Regions from separate parts of the Homo sapiens genome. Here region 2 is linked to region 1. A link means that fine-mapping ties the variant in region 1 to the expression of a gene that starts in the linked region. Tissue or cell type: whole blood. Region 1 holds a variant in brackets; the other region holds the start of a gene. All regions are shown on one strand. Distances are between the middles of the regions.

Region 1 (8,106 bases):
CAATGGTGATAGATAGCTAAAGTTACAAAGCTAGTAAGTGTTTAGCATTATTAATATTAATTGAGGTAATACATGTAAGCTTGAGTGCTTATAGTACTTCAAATGCTTTACATGTACAGAGTAAGTAACTAGGCTATAACTTTTAAAATATGCACAATAGCTCCGTGAAATAGGAAGTATTATCAATATCATCTTTATTTTACAGACAGGATAAATAGGATGTGAACTCAAGATATCTGGTTCCAGAACCTGGGCTCTCGGTCACTAAATCATAAGGCTCAGCCCACTGTACTCAACTACACTTGAGCCAAATTCTGTCTGATAACAGCAGGTAGGCTTTTCGCATATACCAAGTACAGGGGAATAAGTGTTTCCAGGTTTCAACAATCTTTTGGTTCAGCTGGCTAGGCAGTATTATATGAAATGGGCAGTTAAGGACAGAACCTGATTTAGATGTAAAGTATGTGGTATAGACCAAGTGTTGTGGGAGTTCGGCAAAACCTAGACTTGGGACTATTGAGCTAGATCCTGAAGATTGACTAGGATTTGGGTAAGCAAGAAGGAAAGCATGCGTAAGTGAAGTCAGAGAGGCAGACATGAACATAGCACATTCACAGCAGGCTGAGAAGATGGTCCCCACCAAGTTGGGGAGTATCCATTAAGGAGCAGGAAACAAGATTAGCTTGGGATGCAGAGTCTTCAACCACACTTTCAGGATAAAGACAAGAAATTCAAGTGAGGTGGCTCACAAAAAATACAAAAATTAGCCAGACGTGGTGGCCTGCACCTGAAGTCCCAGCTACTCAGGAGGCTGAAGTGAGAGGATCTCTTGAGCCTGGGAGGTCAAGGTTGCAGTGAGCCATGATAGCACTACTGCACTCAAGCCTGGGCAACAGAGCGAGAGCTTGTCTCAGGAAAAAAAAAAAAAAAAAAAAAAGGAATGCAAGAAAGAGCCGCTAGAATTACACTAACCCCACGAAGACCGGTGCTATGCTGCTGCTAAGCTTCCTGGATGTTGGCCTCTTACTGTCTGCTCCATATTCTCCTTGGTAAAGGTAAAAGACCAGTAGAAATCCTACAAATTGCTTTAGTAAAACCTGGGTTTCTTTGATAACAGCAGGTAATTCAAATCTTCATGACCAATATCACATTACCTCGAGCCCATAGCTTTCTAGGGACCCAGTCTAGTAAATAAAATGGAAGGCAGATTCTATATTCCTAAAATGCAAATTCTACCTTAGAGATATTTGAAATTTCATGCGTTAAGTGTTGCCATCTTGCTGCTTCTTTTAAAAATACATTCTCTTTGGAGCATGGATGTTAAGTTTCTTTTTAAAATTAAAAAACATTTAGATTCAGGGGATACACATGCAGGTTTGTTACATGGGTATATTGTGTGATGCTGAGATTTGGGCTTCTAATGAACCCATCACCCATGCCCAAATAGTGAACACAGTACTCAAGTTTTTTTTTCTTTCTTGCCTTTATTTATTTATTTATTTATTTATTTATTTATTTAGAGACATAGTCTTGCTCTATCGACCAGGCTGGAGTGCGGTGTTGAACTCCTGGGCTCAAGCGACCATCCCACCTCAGCCTCCTGAGGAGCTGGGCCTACAGCCATGTACCACCACACCAGGCTAATTTATTTTATTTTATCTGTAGAGGGGTGGGGGAAGGTCTCACAATGTTGCCTAGGCTGGTCTTGAACTCCTGGCTTCAAGCAATCCTTCTACCTTTGCCTCCCAAAGTGCTGGGATTATAAGCATGAGCCACTTCACCTGGCCCCAACTTCTTAAGTAATAATGCTGATCAGCCTTGTCTCTCTTCTCCCACTCCCTAGAATTTATTGGGACAATGGGAACTCTGGATACGGAAAATGGGAATGATTAAAAACCTGAGAAAAGGAATTGGCAAGGTGGTGGAAATGAAGAGAACTCTTTTTGATTTATAATTTTTCCTAGGACCTTTTGCTTTGTGTCTTGAAAGAAAGTTGAAATAGAGTTGAAAATTTTCTTGAGTTACGGAGTTAAGGCCTCATTGGAATGGCAAGAATATTTTAATGCTAAAATTCATTCAAGTCTCTAAGATTTAAGGGTGATTACTAATTTCCTCTTTTTAATCTTGATTAATTTGGTTCTTCTTCATGGGGCCTATTTCCTAATTTAGTCTTAATAATTCAACAAATAAACCAGCATATTTATTGAGTGACTACTGTGTCCAAGAGGTATTGTTCTAGATCAGTGTTTTTCAGAATGGAATATTTGTACCAAAACCTCCTACAACAGTGCTTATATAAGTACAGACTTCTAGGCCCCACAACAGACTCGCCTACCTACCAATGCTAATCTCAGAGGACAGGGATTGATCTGTTTCTCAAGCATCCATAAATACCATGGTACTAGAGCACTGGTTCTCAAACTTGAGTGTGCATTGGAATCACCTGGAGGGTTTGTTAAAACACAGAGTGCCTGGACCCACCCCAGAATTTTGGATTCAGTGGTCTGGGGCGGGTCCTAAGAATTTGCATCTCTAACAAGTTTCCAGGTGATGCTGATGCTGCTGGATCACATTTTGAGAATTACTATGTACTTCTTGAGAACTACTTTGAGAATTATTATGTACTGTAGAAGTACAATGCACTGTAGTAGAGCATTGTGAGAAATATAAAAAAGTATTAGAGGCCGGGTGTGGTGGCTCATGCCTGTAATTCCAGTACTTTGGGAGGCTGTGGCGGGTAAATCACCTGAGGTCAGGAGTTCGAGAGCAGCCTGGCCAACACGGTGAAACCCCATGTCTACTAAAAATACAAAAATTAGCAAGGCGTGGTGGTGGGCACCTGTAACCACAGCTACTCCAGAGGCTGAGGCTGGAGAATTGCTTGAGCCCAGGAGGTGGAGGTTGTAGTGAGCAGAGATCATGCCATTGCACTCCAGCCTGGGCAACAAGAGTGGAACTCTGTTTCAAAAAAAAAAAAAAAAAGAAAAAAAAGTATTAGGTACAATTCCTGTCATTAAGGAGCTTATGCTGTAGTTGGGGGAGATACAACGTACACTATAAACATATAACAAGGAATATATGTATTTGACAATATAAAATATAATACAATATAATATTTGACATTGATGGGGTCTTTAGGAGAAGATGGGATTTGATCTGGGTACTAAAACATGATGAGGCCAAAGGTTCATAGGCATTCTTGGATATAAAAGAAGGAAAATATAGAGGTGTACAGGGGTGGGGTGGTAGATACTTGTTTATCTAGCTTACAGCTTTTAATTTTTATTTTTTATAGAGATGGGGTCTTGCTATGTTGCCCAGGCTGGTCTGGAACTCCTGAGCTCAATGGATCTTCCCACCTTTTCCTCCCAAAGTGCTGGGATTACAGGTGTGAGCCACCACGCCCAGCTTTGTCTAGGACACTTATGGGGGCATAAGACCAAAAAGGTTGGTGCAGTCTGTGAAGAGCCTTGAAAGCCTGTCCTTCTCCTCAGCTCCACCCACTTCATAGCCTTACCAAAAGTGCTGCACAGCCAGAAAGAGGAAGTCTCCCCTGCTGAGTGTGCAAGAGGAAGCACAAGAAGGCTCTGAGGGCCTGTGAGCCATAATGACTGATTTCACCCATGAGCCAATTGCAGAGGCAACAGAAGACCAGTGCACCAACCAGGCTGGGTCCCTCCGCCAGAGGGTGTCACCATCTAAGCTGAAAGTGTTTGGGGAGATCAGACATTGCTGTCTGGTGCTCCTCTCTCAGTGGCCATCATGTCTTTGACATCTGCTTACCAGCATAAATTAGCAGAGAAGCTCACTATCCTGAATGATCGCGGTCAGGGGGTTCTCATCCGTATGTATAACATCAAGAAGGTAAGCATGAACAATGGGACTAGTACTGATTATTCCAACAATAATAGGGCAGGGAACCCTGAGGCGGCAGGTGCAGCAGTTAGACTCCCACCTTTTTTTCCACTGCTTTTCCACTGACTATAATCTACATAATCACTCAGATTATACAGGCCAGCCAGTTCAGGAAGGCAGAAGTGGAGGCTTCTTTTCAAGGCTTCCCCTTTCTAGATATG[A/T]TTCTTGCCCCAACGATGGCATCTGCTTTCCTCTGGGGATGGGGGTGAGGGTGGGGATGGGGAAACAACAGTGGTATTCCAAGTGACTTGGATAAAGGTCTGGGGTCCAACCTTCTGGGTTTTATTATTTATTGTTGATCCTCTACACTCTGAAGAGATCTGAAGCTGGGTCTCTGGCAAAAACTTTTCTGTGGAAGTGCTTCCCTAAAAGGAAAAAAAATAGATAATTAGGTATTTAGATTAAAAAGGGTAGGTGTCTTCTGAGCTGCTCCTGGGGTAGTTCATGCTGTGGTGGTTGTGTGTGTGTGTGTGTGTGTGTGTGTGTGTGTGTTTAGAATAGGAACTGAGGAATTGAAAGAAGCTAGTGACAAGAGGTGGGCTAGGGGCTGGGCAAACCATAGGAAGTAAAGAGATAAAGACAGGGGTGTTTATGGGGAGTTCCTGGCATAGAAAATAGGGGACTTTGGGGGAGGGAGCTTTTGTGTTTTTTGTAATAAAACAAATCACCAGGAACACGGTTTCTCTGTCACCATGAATCCTGTAAATGCCCTTTGGGATAAGATACTTACATAGTGAACAAAATTGTGACACTGAATCTTGTACAAAGTCTAACTCCTGAGCAGCTGCTTTTCTTGTTCCTTCCGGCTTCAGTTGAGGGGCGGGGAAACAGCTTCCTCTTTGTGCTGGGGCCAAGCAGGCATTAAACTCTACCCATCAAGACAAAATGCCTAGGTTGTTATTTCGCTCTTAGATACTTGGCTTAATGTCTTGGAATTTTTTCTTGACCTACTCTTATGCTTTTTATTTTTATATTTATTTATTTATTTATTTATTTATTTATTTTCGGAGTCTCGCTCTGTCGCCCAGGCTGGAGTGCAGTGGCACGATCTTGGCTCACTGCAACCTCCGCCTCCCGGGTTCAAGCGATTCTCCTGCCTCAGCCTCCCAAGTACCTGGGACTACAGTTGTGCACCACCATGCCCAGCTAATTTTTGTATTTTTAGTAGAGACGGGGTTTCACCATGTTGGCCAGGCTGGTCTCGAACTTCTGACCTTGTGATCTGCCTGCCTCGGCCTCCCGAAGTGCTGGGATTACAGGTGTGAGCCGCTGCGCCCAGCCTCTCATGCTTTTTAAATTAGTTCCCAGGTTGCCTTTTCCTAAGACAGATTATGAGAATGAATGTTGCAAGAAGAGGTATGTTTCTGAGGAGGAGGAGAAAGGGTTGAAATATATATGGTTTCTCTCTGCAGACTTGTTCAGACCCCAAATCTAAGCCACCTTTCTTACTGGAAAAGTCCATGGAACCATCTCTCAAGTATATCAACAAGAAATTTCCCAACATAGATGTCCGAAACAGCACGGTGAGAACTTGGTCCTTCTCTCCTTTCTCTGAATAATTCTCTGCTTGAATGGCTGAAATTCTCCTCTTTTGATGCCTCTCTTCAAACTTGGCAGGGGATGGAGTAGTCTTTTTTTATTAATAGTTTTCCAAGGCTCAACCACAGGGCTTCAGGTTGTTGTAGAGCTTTAAGTCTTGAGCATTTTGAGATAAGATGGGATTCTTCCAGCATAAGCTGGAGCGAATCATCACCCCTTTTCCATTGCAAGATTCATGGGAAAACATTGTTTTTGTACAAGACAGCTCTATCAACCCAGCAGGGTACATGTATTTTATTGTTTCTGTTTCCCACTCACTGTTTCCTTGCTGTTTGTCTTAGATTTCTGCATCTAATGGGATATCTCTACTTTTCCCTTATTAAATGTTAACCCTAGATTTTTCACCCATCTTTGTAGCATCTTTGAATTCTGTTTCTTTTGACTTTGATATAAATAGTATATCTGTTCATCTGAAAGGGTGCTTAAAATTTCCTCTCATTTAGCCCTCTGTATCTAGTCAGGATCACATGCAACCATTCTACCTAGATAGACAATCTCCTTTGTTTAAAGACCTTCAGAGCACTGAAGCGTTTCTAACTTCCTCTGTCAGTATATTTCAACTCTCTTTCTTTTTCTTTTCTTTTCTTTTTTTTTTTTTTTGAGATGGAGTCTTGCTCTGTCACCCAGGCTGGAGTGCAGTAGCACAATCTTGGCTCACTGCAACCTCTGCTTCCCAGGTTCAAGTGATTCTTCTGACTCAGCCTCTCGAGTAGCTGGCATTACAGGCGCCCGCCACCACGCCCAGCTAATTTTTGTATTTTTAATAGAGACGGGGTTTCACCAGGTTGGCCAGGCTGGTCTTGAACCCCTGACCTCAGGTGATCCGCCTGCCTCGGCCTCCCAAAGTGCTGGGATTACAGGTGTGAGCCACTGCGCCCGGCCTCAACCCTCTTTAAGAATGTTTTAGGTATAACCACTGTTCTTCTTGAGTTATTTGGATCAATTGTCTTATTTTGCACTTTTTTATTGTTTTGTTTTGTGTTTCTCTCAGCAACATTTAGGACCAGTACATCGTGAAAAAGCCGAGATAATTAGATTCCTCACCAACTACTACCAGTCATTTGTGGATGTCATGGAATTTCGGGTGAGCTCTCTTGAGCCGTTTCCAATGTAGGCAAGGTCTTTCAGAGGCTATTCTTTCTTTAGATGTTCATGTATTTGCTTAAAACAAGTTCTTGAAAAAATGAGAGAGATGTACTAATATGGAAGGATATCTAAGTTGTATTGTTAAATGAAAGCAAATTTCAAAATAGTATATGATACATCACATTTCTATTTTAAAAGAGTATGTATGTATATGTATTTAGTAAATATCTAGGAAAGATCTGGACTATTTTACATTAAACTGTTAAAAATAACTACCTTTGGGGACTGATTATGACTGGCTTCAATTTAGTAGGCTATGCATGTTTTTTCTATTTTAAAAATTATGGTAAAATACACATAACATAAAATTTACTGTCTTAACCATTTTTAAGTATACAGTTCAGTGGTACTAAGTATATTAATAATGCAACCATCTTTTCACCTTGTAAACCTGAAACTCTCTACCCTTTATGCAATAATTCCCCATTTCCCTTTCTTTCCAGCCCCTTGCCATCACAATTCTACTTTGTTTTTGTGATTTTGACTATTCTAAGTACCTTATATAAGTAGAATCATAAAGCATTTGTCTTTTTGTGGCTGGCTTATTTCATCAGCCTAATGTCCTTAAGGTTCATCCCTGTTGTAGCATATTGTAGAATTTCCTTTTTAAGCTAAATAATATTCCATTGTATGATTATACTACATTTTGCTTATCCGATCGTATGTTGATGGACACTTAGGTTGCTTCCAAGTTTTAGCTATTGTAAATGATGCTGCTATGAACGTGGGTGTACAAATATATCTTCAAAACCCTACTTTCAATTCTTTTGATTATAAACATGAAAGTGGAAATGCTGGATCATATGATAATTCTATTATTAACTTTTTTTTTTTTGAGTTAGGGTCTCACTCTGTTGCCCAGGCTGGAGTGTAGTGGTGCAATCACAGCTCACTGCTGCCTCGACCTCCTAGGCTCAGGTGATCCTCCCACCTCAGCCTCTTGAATAGCTGGGGCTAAAGGCACATGCCACCACACCTGGCTAAGTTTTTATATTTTTTGTAGAGATGGGGTATCCCCATGTTGGCCAGGGTGGTCTCAAACTCCTGGGCTCAAGCTATCCACCCACCTCGGCCTCCCAAAGGCTGGACTGTGCCGGCCTATTTTTAACTTTTTGAGGAACTGCTATACTGTTTTCCACAGTGGCTGTACTCTTTTACATTCTCACCAACGGTGCATAAGGGCTATAATTCCTCCACATCCTCGCCAACAATTGTTATTTCGTTTTTTTGACAGTAGCCATCCCAGTGGGTGTGAGGTATTATCTCATCTAAGTTTTTATTTGAATTTTTGCTAATGATTAGTGATAATGAGCATTTTTCATAGGCTTATTGGCCATTTATATATCTTCTTTGAAGAAATGTCTGTTTCATTCTTTGACCATTTTTGAATTGGATTTTTTGTGTGTGTTGAGACTTAGGAGTTCTCTATACAGGTTGAGTATTCCT
Region 2 (8,104 bases), 51 kb after region 1:
AAGATACAGAACAGTTCCATCACCACAAGGATCCCTCGCATTGCTCTTTTATAGCAATTTTATAGCAATTTTCTCCTCCCACAACCCCCTTCCCCATCTCTAGCTCCTGGTAACACAGATATATTCTCTATTTCTAAAATTTTGTCATTTGATATATCTTTTTGTAAACATATAATTATACACACATATTTCTCTACCACTTATACTTTTTCAAAGTGCTTTCACATCCTTATAGCAATTCTGCAAGGTAGCCAGGGAAGGCTTTCCTATTTCAGGTCAGAAAACAGATTTAGAAATATTAAATGACTTAATGAAGGTCACATGTTTAGCAGTAGAACTAGAACTGGGACCCAAGTCTGATGTTCAGTCCTAGACCTTTTCTACTTGCCCGGTCTGCCTCTTCACAAGGGAAGACTTGGGTTTTAGAATCCAGAGACCTTAGAAGGAGCAAATTGGAGAAGGTGAGGACATGATGGCCTTTACTACCGGAAGCAAAAAGTGAATGTCCAGAGGTGAAGGGACAGAGAAGTAACAGGACCCATCAGCATTTCAGGCAATTTGCTTCCTTTACCAGGAGGGTCTCTGTCCTCTTACAACCTGGGAAAAAATAAGTTGTGTCCCAGGTTGTAAGTTTGCTTTACTTAGGCCCAAAGGAACTAAAGAATGGATATCAGAAATCTCACCCCAATTGTTTTGTCTTACAGGCACAGAATAGGTTCTAGCCTCAGCATTTTCATTAATGTAGTGTTTTTATTAACATCTCCATTAACTTGCTTGCAGCAATGAGATGGAATTATGCCTCCCACAAGGCCTGGGGCAAGATACTTGCATAGGTGCCCCCTTTTGTTTGGACAGTAGAAACACTGCCTCCCCTGCCATGGTGTTCAATCCAGTTGGCAGGTGGGCCAGCTTCAAAGTGCAGAAGGAACTGGGTGTGGTGGCTCACCCCTGTAATCCCAGCACTTTGGGAGGCAGGCGGATCGCTTGAACTCAGGAGTTTGAGACCACTCTGGGCAACACAGTGAAACCCTGTCTCTCCAAAAATACAAAAAATTAGCTGGGCATGGTGGCTGTTGTCTGTAATCCCAACACTTTGGGAGGCTGAGGCCAGTGGATCTCTTGAGCTAAGGAGGTTAAGACCAGCCTGGTCAACATGGCGAACTCCGTCTCTACAAAAAAATACGAAAATTAGCTGGGCGTAGTAGTTCCTGCCTGTAGTCCTAGCTACTTGGAAGGCTGAGGTGGGGAGGATCGCTTGAGTCCGGGAGGCAGAGGTTGCAGTGAGCGAAGATGATGCCATTGCACTCCAGTCTGGGTGACAGAGCAAGATCCTGTCTCACAAAAAAAAAAAAAAAAAAAAATGCAGAAGGTCCAGGGCCTGGCCAAGGGGATGATGCCCTGTAGCACTTTGCTTTGCAGGAAGGGAACAACTGTGCTGTGAATACCAGGATCCAGGAGGGAGGGAGGGTATATCTGTGTCCCCCAGCTAGGGACAAGGCTTCCTTAACCTTAGGTCCTCATGCTTATATTAGTTCTTCTCCAACAAAGTTTGACTTTGAGAAGAAGCTGGCACATGGCTGAAATGCACTCACGCGGTTGGGGGAAGAGTGTTCTTCCAGTCCTCCTCCCCACAGGGCCTCCTGCTTCTCCTAAGTACCTGTCATCAAAGGAGATGAAGATGAATCCCCCTTCAGCCCCCACACCTCAATGAGTTGTCAAGTACTCTCCCTCCCACTTGAATAGGAAGCAGGAGCAGCAGGCCAGGTTGCAGGTTGAGGAAGTCAGAAGTTAACTTGAGCTGAGTTTGCAGCTCTGGAGAGATTGAGGAGCAGACTTTTCTCTTGTCACTTTGGAAGGAGAGGATTGTGAGGCTGCCCCTTTAAATAGCATTCCCGTAGGAGGCAGATCACATCCATCCGTCACCTACTGCCAAAGCATCATTTTTGGTTTCTATCAAACTCAAAGCTTGTTGGAAAGGATTGTGGGGTTAGGGGAGTGAGGAGGCAGAGCCTCCTAGGGGTAGGGGGCAGTTTAGAAGCTGAAAAGGAGAGGAATGAGAAGGAGCCTGGGAAAGGTGGGGGATGAGGACAAGAGGAAAAGACAGGGAGAGAATAGTTGTCTTTTGAGCCTCAGAGTGGAACAAGTATACCCAATTCTTATCTGTTTAGAGACGCAGCAAGGTAGAAATGGGATTGTATTGCAACAAGAGGAATGAGGTTGAGACTAAACACCAGGACTGGTGACTAAAGAAAGTGAAAGGAGCCACAGAGTGAAAAAGGCTGATAGACTTGGCTCTGGTTTTATCACTTACTCTCTGTGAGACCCTATAATTTTTCTGGGTTAGTTTAGTTCTCATTTATTTTTATTTTTACTTTTTCCATCAAACTGTGTTGTCTATGAAGTTTTCCCATTTATTAAATGAAGGGAATTAGAGTGGATGAACTCTAATGTCTCTTTCACGAATAACTTTGTGTGTGTGTGCGTGTGTGTGTGTGTGTGTGTGTGTGTGTGTGAATTAGCCTTAAAATGAATCAGGAGCAGGGGGTCTTGGGAGAGCAGGATGTGACACTGTGTTAACAAGAAATGTTGAGAGAGCCCTCTGGATGTATGTCTTGCCTCTTTCCCACCTATTCTAGTTTAAAGACCTGCCTAAATTTGGAAACTCCTTAGCTCTAATCCTAATTTACTAATTAGAGCTCTTTAGCACCATCCTAATTTGCAATTCTTTTGTAGTTTCCAGCCCATTTCATTTTCAGTTGATAAGGAGGAGATTGCTCCCAAATTTTCAGAAATGGACTGTGTAGGAGTGTGACTAGGGTCTCAGATGCAGCCATTTCTTGGCTGGGTCTGGGGAAAAGCCAAGGGATGTGTGCTAAAGGTAGATGGACAGAGGGTGGGAAGTCCCTTATTATTTCCACTTTTTTCTCCATCTCTGACTCTGCCATCTCTTTCTGCCTCTGTACTTTCTGGGAGCTGGTTCTGCTGATACTTCTGCTGAATCTAAATGCTGACCTAACTTGGCAATTCTTTTATGTTAGGAGTCTTAGCTGTGACAGTTCATCCGCTTCTTCGCCCTTCCATTTCACTTCTTTTCTCCTTCTCTGACTGGGAGAGGAGGAGCCTCCACTCAGTATTTAGAACAGAGTAAATACCTTCTCCTGATCACTCCTCCTTCCAACCTCCAGAATTTTTTGAAATTAAAATTCACATTCTGGGATCCTGGATTAGTGGCCTGTTTTGGATTCAGTAGTTAGTGAATATATCTCCACTTTCTGTTGACATAGGAGTTTCCCCAATGCCAAAGCAGGTGGTCATTAAGGGAGAGAACAATATGGAGCAAGAGAGGTGGTTCCTGCAAGAGTCCTAGGTAGGACTCGGTTGGATGGAGGAGGCTTTGCCCTTTTACAAGGTCTTGAGTTCAAATTCCAGTTCACTCCTTCCACAAATGTTTATTAACCAGCTAGGCTGTTTTGTGCTGGGCCTTTAGCTCCTAGATTTCTTTCTCTGAAGACAGAACAGAAAAAATGAGCTGGAAGTGCTTCAGGAGGGGTTTTGATATCAGGAATGCTTTCCTGGCTGTGTAGAGTTATTACCTAGTCAAAGAAGAAGATGTTAAGCTGGGTGCGGTGGCTCACACCTGTAATCCCACCACTTTGGGAGGCCGACGTGGGCGGATCACGAGGTCAGGAGTTGGAGACCAGCCTGGCCAATATAGTGAAACCCCATCTCTACTAAAAAATACAAAAATTAGCCGGCGTGGTGGCCCGCGCCTGTAGTCCCAGCTACTCCAGGAGGCTGAGGCAGGAGAATCGCTGGAACTGGGGAGGCAGAGGTTGCAGTGAGCCGAGATCGCGCCACTGCACTGCAGCCTGGGCGACACAGACTCCTTCTCAAAAAAAAAAAAAAAAAAAAAAAAAAAAAAAAAGATGCCTGCTCTGGAGAGCTTTGAACTTGGAAGAAATTCCTATCTGCTAGGCGGGCAGGCAGAAGTACCATGGAGAAGGCCACAGTCTTGGAGACAGGTGGGGAAGATCAAGCTGAGGGACCCGAGGCCAAGTGTGGGATGCCATCACAGCTCAGGGCACACCCTGAACTTTTCCAAGACAGGAGCACAGGTGGGGTCTGGTCCGACTGGGTTCCGAGTCCAGATCTAGCAGGGAAAGATGTGTGCTCATCCCCTACCCCGCACTCAGACATGGGACACGCAGGCAGCTAGGCACACGTGGATACATGGAACCACAACCACATACACAGAAACTCAAAACACACGGAGAGAACCCACACAACCACCCACACCGAAGTCCAGCCCGCCGCCTCCGCTGCACTCTGTAAACACGCACTCACATCCGCCAGTACAGGGCACACGCAGCCACTCGTCCCCGGCGCCTGTGTGCGTGCGCTCGCCCTTGGGCGCTTCTGTCTGTGTGTGCCCCCGGCTTCCAATCGTTCCTTTGGGAGGGGGAGGAGTGGCTGTGAGGAGTGAGAGACTGGCGGGCAGGCTGAGGAGAAGGGAGGGAGAGCAGAGGGAGGGGGGAACCCGGCCGGGGGAGGAGGAGAGAGGCGAGGAGGCGGCTCTGGCAGCGCGCGGCGGCGGCGGCGGTAGCGGCAGCAGCAGCGGCGGTGCGGAGAGCTTGGACTGGGAGCCCAAAGCTCGGCTGGGCAGCGGGAGAGGAGGAGCCGCAGGAGCTGCAGCTCTGCCAGCTTGGGCCGAGCCTAGAGACACCGGCCTGGCTGGTCCACGCCAGCCGCAGGTGGGAAGGGCCTGGGATGGGGGGTGAGGGTCTCTCGGCTGGGGCTGAAGCTGAGCCGAGGTGCTGTCTCCTCCTTCTGTTCCGTAGACCGTGGCTGAGCATGGAGCTGTCCCCCCGCAGTCCTCCGGAGATGCTGGAGGAGTCGGATTGCCCGTCACCCCTGGAGCTGAAGTCAGCCCCCAGCAAGAAGATGTGGATTAAGCTTCGGTCTCTGTAAGTCCCCGGCCCGGGAATGGGGGGAAGGGACCTTAGGGAGCCTGAGCGGGAGGAGGAGGGGGGATAACTGGAGCAGGGCTGTGGGCTGGTAGATTCTCTTTGGCACAGATGTTGGCAGGTGCGAGGAAGCACGGCCCTGACACGCGTGGCCAGGCCACATGTGCAAGGCATGTGCGGAGCAAGCTGGCCAGTTGGAGCGGGCTTAGGAGTTGCAAAGGTAACGATGTGCCTGTGCCTGTGGACCCCAGGCTGACACACGCAGCGCCTAGAGGCAGCACAGTATATGCAGTGTGGCAGGGCTGCAGGAGGGCAGTAGAGGTGCCAGGCTGACTCACACATATCCATGTGCAGAGTTGTGCAGATGTGAGCCACATGACATGTGTGTGCATGAGTGAGCGTGGGTCACAGAGGTATGTGGAGTGATTGCACACAGCTGTAGATCTACTGCATGGGAATACTTGTGCCAACCTGTGGGTCATATGTATCTCAGTTGGGATTGGTAGTTTCTGCCTCATGCACAGGAAGTGGGGTGGGGGTTACCCCATGCCTGAGCTGCTCATCTCTTGGGGCCTGGAAACTCACTCTATGTATTAATGATGAGGGGACCCACGTGGAATCTGGAGGGGGGGTTGGAGCCCCCACCTGGAAGCTGAAGGAGGTGATGATGGTGAAGAAATATTGATTGACAAAGGCAAGGTAACTGGCTTAATCAGAGGCTTTTTGTTTATATAGGGTCTTCCAGGATCTCCAAGCACATTTGGGCATCTTTTCCTATTGTTGCAGTACCAGGGCATGTGGGGAGGAATAAATGGGGGAAGGAAGAACTCAGGTATCTGATACTCCAGTCCCAGGGGAGGAAAGGAACTTTTCCCCTGCTCCTTAGAAAAAAAAGAGGATTGGGTCAAAGACAAGCCATGCACCATGTTTATCTCCCAGTCAGCTGCTGCCATTGGGAAATCTCCGCAGTCTGTTGATTCTTAATCAGGGAACAAGAGAAGATGTCCCTCTCTCCGAGATGAATCCATGGCCCCAGGAAAGAGGAAACAGATAGGAGACTATGGATGTTTAGAGAGGAAACACAGTAAACATAGCCCTGAACCCAGTTCCTCCTCAATGTTCTCCATAGTGAGCACCGAAGCTTTCTATTTCTGGGTTCTGGGAGAGGGAGAGATGGGGGTAGGGGATGGATAGATGCTTATGTTGTATTGTTCTTTAAATACTTCACCTATGGTGATAAGATGACACCTTTTTATGGCAGATGGGTCTGATTTATACACTAGCTACTTGGAGAGGCGTTAGGGAGAACTGAGGCATAGTGGGCAACAAGGCTTGGAATCCAAATGTACTTCTCAGTCCTCCTCCTTGGCTGCCTCTGGCCAATCCAATTTGCTGGGCTCTATGAAGCACAGCCTTGGAATGAGTTCTGGGATGAAGAAATGGAAAACCAGATTGAACTGATTTTTGTTGGGAGGAGCACTGTGTGATTCTTGATAGAAAATGACGCTGCGTTAATGGTAAATGAGCTGGGGAAAGGGGCAGATAAGGAAGTAGTTGAAAGGTAAAGAAGGGCCCCAGGTCCATAAATGGGAGAATTCAGGATGGCTCCCCTAACACTAGTGGCTCATCATACTTACCTTGCCTGTATTCCAGGTAACAGGGCCCTGCGAAAGAGTGGGTATTACTAGTTTCACTATCTCCCACACATTTCTAACCAAAAGCCTTTCCTGAAAATGAATTGTTGTTTCTTCCTTTAGTGTGAGAAGTGCTCAGTGGTGAGAGAAGAGGATTCCCAGAAGGAGGCATGAAACCTGGGAAGAGAAGGGAGTAGAGGCATCTGTCTCTCCAGAGTGCCTTAGCTGAGATGTCCTTACATGAGATTAGGGTGGACAAGGATCCCTATTCTTATTGATTAGATCATTCTGGTCTTCACTCACTTCAGCAGTCTGGTCCTTAAGAATGCTAGCTTTGTACAATAAATTTACAAGTAAAAAATAAAGCTAGCTACATGTAATATAACTTACCCAAAAAAGTACAATCTCCGGATTATTAATTGGCAGGAATAGATTCCCAGTCTTACGTCCTTAAAGCAGAGAAAGACCTTGAAATCAAGGTAGATCCCAACTTGATCTATGTTGATGGCCTACTGGATTTTGCCTTTTTGAATATTGGGGAGGCTTTGACTATCAGATGAAGGGAAATAAAAGGATTTAGGGCTTTGCTGGGTAAGAGGTGGGAGTTTCCCAACCCTCTCAATGGGATGGTTTCTGAATAGGTGAGAAAGGAGATGTTCCCCCTTTTAAGTGGAAATAAAGATCCCCCTGCCCCTTTGGTCAAGGTGGGAAGGGGTTGCTAAGTCTGGAAATAGGAAATAGACATGATTATCTTAGGACTGGGTACTGCTTGGAAATGGAAACATGGCATATATACTTGTATGTATTTATCTAACTATCTATCTAGATTCTTCTACTCAACACATCCTATTCCCCCCCTTCTACCCTTTTAATTTCTAATCAGGACATCCAGACTTTCTTCAGGGAGACTAGGCCTGGTGTTTTTGACTCTGGATAAAAAGCCCACACTAATATAATAGTGCAGGGCAATTTTTTGTTGGGAAGAGCATCCAAGAATTCTGTTTCCCACACTAAGACCCTGTCAAAAATAAATTCAGAATCTAATCTGTATCATATGAGCTGAAGAGAATCTCTTAACTGTGTGATTTTACCCCTATTTTCAGAACAATTTCTCTAATTAAGCAAACTCATAAACTGAGGCATGAGAGAGGGTGAAAGAGGCCATCTGGAGATGATGAGTTGGCCAGGATGATTTTCAGCATCTGTAACCCTAAGAGGAAGTATTTGACTTGGCTGTCCACCCTTCTCTGAGATCAGAGGGCTTTAGGGAATGGGAAGAAGACCAGAAGAGATAGAAATGATTTTCTGTGTCTTTTGTGATTCAAGAAAAACGATGAGCAGACATTGGTTTGCCATCCTCAGCTCATTTATTTATCCAACAACTATTTCTTGAGTGCCTTCTATGGACCAGGTGGCATGCTGGATGCTGAGAATACAGTCGGTGGTGGACAAAACAGACATAGTCCCTCTTCCTACAGAGCTTGTAACCTGCTTCAACTCCATCAA

What was found. PIP is the estimated chance that this variant, and not a neighbour inherited with it, causes the effect.
Region 2: PDE1B starts here. The variant in region 1 is fine-mapped to the expression of PDE1B in whole blood (TOPMed, PIP above 0.99).

What each region holds. Positions count from the first base shown.
Region 1 is chr12:54,494,028-54,502,133 of GRCh38, forward strand. It overlaps NCKAP1L (NCK associated protein 1 like), which reads left to right and starts at 3,725. Exons shown (of 31, transcript NM_005337.5): 1 at 3,725-3,864; 2 at 5,328-5,438; 3 at 6,506-6,598. The coding sequence starts at 3,763. RefSeq lists enhancers at 3,687-3,746, 3,857-3,916. The variant A/T (reference allele first, on the strand shown) is at 4,077.
Region 2 is chr12:54,545,022-54,553,125 of GRCh38, forward strand. PDE1B (phosphodiesterase 1B) reads left to right here and starts at 4,580. Exons shown (of 16, transcript NM_000924.4): 1 at 4,580-4,751; 2 at 4,839-4,964. The coding sequence starts at 4,852. NCKAP1L (NCK associated protein 1 like) reads left to right here. Exons shown (of 31, transcript NM_005337.5): 31 at 1-3,222. RefSeq lists enhancers at 1,438-1,982, 5,130-5,758 and a silencer at 4,505-4,564.